Regions from separate parts of the Homo sapiens genome. Here region 2 is linked to region 1. Evidence: fine-mapped expression QTL. Tissue or cell type: blood mononuclear cells. Region 1 holds a variant in brackets; the other region holds the start of a gene. All regions are shown on one strand. Distances are between the middles of the regions.

Region 1 (2,765 bases):
TTAGCAATGAGATTGCTGGGTCAAATGGTATTTCTGGTTCTAGATCCTTGAGGAATCACCACACTGTCTTCCACAATGGTTGAACTAATTTACACTCCACTGACAATGTAAAAGCATTCCTATTTCTCCACATCCTTTCCAGCATTTGTTGTTTCCTGACTTTTTAATGATCACCATTCTAACTGGTGTGAGATGGTATCTCATTGTGGTTTTGATTTGCATTTCTCTGATGACCAGTGATGATGAGCTTTTTTTCATATGTTTTTTGGCCACATAAATGTCTTCTTTTGAGAAGTGTCTGTTCATATCCTTTTCTAAATATACAATCATGTCATCTGCAACAGAGACAATTTGACTTCCTCTTTTCCTAATTGAATACCCTTTATTTCTTTCTCTTGCCTGATTGCCCTGGCCAGAACTTCCAATACTGTGTTGAATAGGAGTGGTGAGAGAGGGCATCCTTGTCTTGTGCCGGTTTTCAAAGGGAAAACCTTTGAAAGCTTCCAGCTTTTGCCCATTCAGTATGATATTGGCTGTGGGTTTGTCATAAATAGCTCTTATTATTTTGAGATATGTTCCATCAATACCTAGTTTATTGAGAGTTTTTAGCATGAAGCGCTGTTGAATTTTGTCAAAGGCCTTTTGGCATCTATTAAGATATTCATGTGGTTTTTGTCATTGGTTCTGTTTATGTGATAGATTGCGTTTATTGATTTGCGTATGTTGTACCAGCCTTGCATCCCAGGGATGAAGCCGACTTGAGTGTGGTGGATAAGCTTTTAGATGTGCTGCTGCATTTGGTTTGCCAGTATTTTACTGAGGATATTGGCCTGAAATTTTCTTTTTTTGTTGTGTCTCTGCTAGGTTTTGGTATCAGGGTGATGCTGGCCTCATAAAATCAGTTAGGGAAGATTCTCTCTTTTTGTATTGTTTGGAATAGTTTTAGAAGGAATGGTACCAGCTCCTTTTATACCTCTGGTAGAATTCGGCTGTGAATCCATCTGGTCCTGGACTTTTTTGGATGGTAGGCTATTAATAGTTGCCTCAATTTCAGAACTTGTTATTGGTCTATTCAGGGATTCAACTTATTCCTGATTTAGTCTTGGGAGGGTATATGTGTCCAGGAACTTATCCATTTCTTCTAGATTTTTTATTTTATTTGCATAGAGGTGTTTATAGTATTCTCTGATGGTAGTTTGCATTTCTGTGGGATCGGTGGTGACATCCCCTTTATCATTTCTTATTGCATCTATTTGATTCTTCTCTCTGTTCTTCTTTGTTAGTCTTACTAGTGGTCTATCAATTTTGTTGATCTTTTCAAAAAAACAGGTCCTGGATTCATTGATTTTTTGAAGGATTTTTTGTGTCTCGTCCTCCTTCAGTTCTGCTCTGATCTTAGTTATTTCTTGACTTCTGCTAGCTTTTGAATGTGTTTGCTCTTGCTTCTCTAGTTCTTTTAATTGTGGTATTAGGGTGTCAACTTTAGATCTT[T/C]CCTGTTTTCTCTTGTGGGCATTTAGTGCTATAAATTTCCCCATACACACTGCTTTAAATGTGTCCCAGAGATTCTGGTACATTCTGTCTTTGTTCTCATTGGTTTCAAAGAATTTAATTATTTCTGCCTTCATTTCGTTATGTACCCAGTAGTCATTCAGGAGCAGGTTGTTCAGTTTCCATGTAGTTGTGTGGTTTTGAGTGAGTTTCTCAATCCTGGGTTCTAATTTGATTGCACTGTGGTCTGAGAGATTGTTATGATTTCCGTTCTTTTGCATTTGGTGAGGAGTGTTTTACTTTCAATTATGTGGTCCATTTCAGAATAAGCACAATGTAGTGCTGAGAAGAATGTATATTCTGTTGATTCGGGGTGGAGAGTTCTGTAGATGTCTATTAGGTCCACTTGGTCCAGAGCTGAGTTCAATTCCTGGATATCCTTGTTAATTTTCTGTCTCGTTGATCTAATATTGACAGTGGGGTGTTAACTCCCCACTACTAACACTATTATTGTGTTGGAATCTAAGTCTCTTTGTAGGTCTCTAAGAACTTGCTTTATGAATCAGGGTGCTCCTGCTTTGGGTGCATATATATTTAGGATAGTTAGCTCTTCTTGTTGCGTTGATCCCTTTACCATTATGTGATGGCCTTCTTTGTTTCTTTTGATCTTTGTTGGTTTAAAGTCTTTTTTGTCAGAGACTAGGATTGAAACCCTTGCTTTTTTTTTGCTGTCCATTTTCTTGGTAAATATTTTTTCATCCCTTTATTTTGAGCCTATGTGTGTCTTTGCACATGAGATGGGTCTCCTGAATACAGCACACCAATGGGTCTTGACTCTTTATCTAATTTGCCAGTCTGTGTCTTTTAATTGGGACATTTAGCCCGTTTACATTTAAGATTAATATTATTATGTGTGAATTTGATCTTGCCATTATGATGCTAGCTGGTTATGTTGCCCATTAGTTGATGCAGTTTCTTCATAGTGTCGATGGTCTTTACAATTTGGTATGTTTTTGCAGTAGCTGGTACCAGTTGTTCCTTTCCGTGTTTAGTGCTTCTTTCAGGAGGTCTTGTAAGGCAGGCCTGGTGGTGACAAAATCTATCAGCATTTGCTTGTCTGTAAAGGATTTTATTTCTCTTTCACTTATGAAGCTTAGTTTGGCTGGATATTAAATTCTGGGTTGAAAATTCTTTTCTTTAAGAATGTTGAATATTGGCCCCCACTCTCTTCTGTCTTGTAGGGTTTCTGCAGAGAGATCTGCTGTTAGTTTGATGGG
Region 2 (2,607 bases), 170 kb after region 1:
CTCTAACTCTAAAACTCAATATAGAGTTTTTTTTCTGTGACACCTCCCCTCGTGTCTCCCCTAACTGCGACTCGCATTAACTCGCTGCTGGTTCCCAGCTGGAGAGCACAGATTGCACCTGCTCCGAAGCCCAGCGGGGCTCAGTGTCGTCCGCAGCTCAACCTCGGCTGCCTGTGCACGGACATCGGGACCCACCAGGGGTCACTGCAGCTTCAGAGCTATTGTGCCCCTCAGTCCTGGACGCGGCCGACCGCGCGGAGGGCGTGGGATTGGGACCGCCGAACCGTGGGGTCCGAGCAGCACCGCGTCCTCTTCTCCCCACCCAGCCTCCAGGTCTCTCGGGGGAAGGACGCAGCGAGCGCTGGACTGCCCCGCGGCTTGGGCGCAGTGTGCGGCTTGGCAGCGTGGACTCGCCGGCACCTCGCCGCTGGGACCACGGTCTCTGCCCCGCCCTCCGCCCCCAGCTGATACCCCGCCCAGAAGGGGCTCCCCTGCCGCGGCCAGCGCTGGACTGGGGGGTCCGCTTCGTTCCAGGGCTTTTTGCAGACGCCTGGACCGGGCCCACATGCACCTGGGCTGCTCCCGCCCGGGGCGCCACCACTCGCGCGGCCAAGAGAACTTTCCCCGGAGCCTCTGCGGCCTGGCGCGCCCAGGGCGCACCCCCCGCTCGCCCGTCCGCCGCGTTCCCAGCTGGGGCGTCGCTCCTCCGCCCGCAGGTCCCCGCCTCCCCGCTTTGCTGAATGTCCTGAAGAAGCCGTATTCCGCCGCCGCGGCAGGCATTCCCGGAGGGAGAGCTTGAACTTGGCTACACACGGCCACCCGTAATGAGCTCGGGAGTCCCCGGACGGGAGCCACACCCCGCGACGAGCTGACCTCCCCTCGCTGGTCTGGGTAAGGAGCCTGCTGCCCTTTCCGCCTCTCTTCCGGCTCCTCGGCGCTTGCGGCTGGGGGACGGGGTAGCGGACGGAGCGACGACCTTCGCCTCTGCCCCTGCGCCCATGGTCGGGGCGTCGTGGGTGCTCCTCACACAAAAGAAAAGCCGAGCGCTTCATACTCGGCGGATCTGACCCGGGGCTGCGGGGCGGGGTCGCGGCTGGAAGTGCGCGCCCGCGGGGGACTCCGCAGGCCGATCGGACGCCAGGACGTCGGGGCCGCGCTCAAATCCGTGCGGCAGGAGGGAGGTGCAGCGCTTCCAGGGTTTTCCAAGGCCGGGGAGAGCCTCGAATTCCCATCACTCCTTTTTCTGGTCTCTTGCCCCCAGTGCCAGGAGACTTTTGTCGTCCCCAGGACTGCGGGAGGGGCCCCGCGCCCCCGCCTTCGGAGGAGCTCGAGCCGCAGGATGCGCGGGGACGCGCCACCGCCCTCCGCGCCCAGTTCCGCCGGCGCTTCCCCGGCGGCTCCCGGGCGCTGACTCTCCCGGGCTTTTCCGCCTTTCTCGCTCCCGCCCCGCCGGGCGGTTCGGCGGCCGGTCCCCGGACCCCGCCGGGAGCTGCTCGTCTCACCCTCGCCACGGCGCGGACAATAAATTAATGCATCGCGCTTGAGTGGAGGGGGCGGCTGGGCGCCTCGGTGGTAGCTTTCTCTCCTGGCTGGAGACGACCACAACCGACATGGGCTGTTTCTGCGCTGTTCCGGAAGAATTTTACTGCGAAGTTTTGCTCCTGGATGAATCCAAGTTAACCCTTACCACCCAGCAGCAGGGCATCAAGGTGGGTGCGGCCCGGAGCGCGTTCCGGGGGTTGGCGGCAGGGCGGGTGCGGGGGTCCATCGCTTTGAGGGCTGTCACCGGTGGGTCGAGGGCGGCGGCCGCGACTCTGCGCGGTGGGGAGGAGAGGCCGCTGTCCCCTGCGCGCAGGGAGAGGGTGGACGTACCAGGGTGAGTTAACTTTGAGTTCCTTCATAAAGCAAAGTTGAGTTTGACGTTTCTAAGTTTACTCAGCACACCGGCTCCCAGCAGCACCCCAAAACTCTTCCCCAAACCGGTTTTCTCCAAAAGCCTCTGGGTGCCCCGCAGCTCTCAAAGAGGGGCAGAATGGGTTATACCAGCTGCGTCCCACCAGTGTGGAAGGCATGGTTTCCCTCGACTTTGTTGAAGGCGTTTTCCTTGACAGTGTTATTAGGGAAGTGAACTAGTTCACTCGTTGAAACGCATTAATGGGTCATTGTGATTGTTTTGCGTGGGTTCGTAGTTGGGTAATGCTACGTTTGGACGGAAAATATTTTCCCTTTCTACAGCGACCTGGGTTTATCCTCACATTTAAGTAAACATCTCTCAAAGCGACCCAGTAATAACTTTGCTCCTGTTTGTGGGTCATTAAAATGCAATCACTACATTAACCTAGAGAGCCCAAACAAAAAGGCAGCAGAGCTCGCAGAGATCCTCTTCCTTACATTGGATGAGAAGGTACGTATGTTTGTAGTGACAACCTGACCGACGCGCCTGCGTGCTTGTTTTGCTTTTGCAACAGTGTTAACTACCTAAAGGAGATCTAAATCCGGAGCGTTTTGTTGTTTTGTTTATCTTTCTCTTTCAGTTTTAGATCGCTAAGGCATTTTAGATAAGGCAACAGCTGAGTCTGGTGAAGGGAAACCGCCCCCCCGCCCCCG

The links. PIP is the estimated chance that this variant, and not a neighbour inherited with it, causes the effect.
Region 2: it holds the start of EPB41L4A, and the variant in region 1 is fine-mapped to the expression of EPB41L4A in blood mononuclear cells (TOPMed, PIP 0.93).

What each region holds. Positions count from the first base shown.
Region 1 is chr5:112,588,089-112,590,853 of GRCh38, reverse strand. No RefSeq gene overlaps it. Among named protein-coding and RNA genes, the nearest start is that of LINC02200, 39 kb to the left of the region's middle. The variant T/C (reference allele first, on the strand shown) is at 1,492.
Region 2 is chr5:112,418,043-112,420,649 of GRCh38, reverse strand. EPB41L4A (erythrocyte membrane protein band 4.1 like 4A) reads left to right here and starts at 1,373. Exons shown (of 23, transcript NM_022140.5): 1 at 1,373-1,709. The coding sequence starts at 1,611. It overlaps EPB41L4A-DT (EPB41L4A divergent transcript), which reads right to left and starts at 1,067. Exons shown (of 1, transcript NR_027706.1): 1 at 1-1,067. RefSeq lists a silencer at 619-708.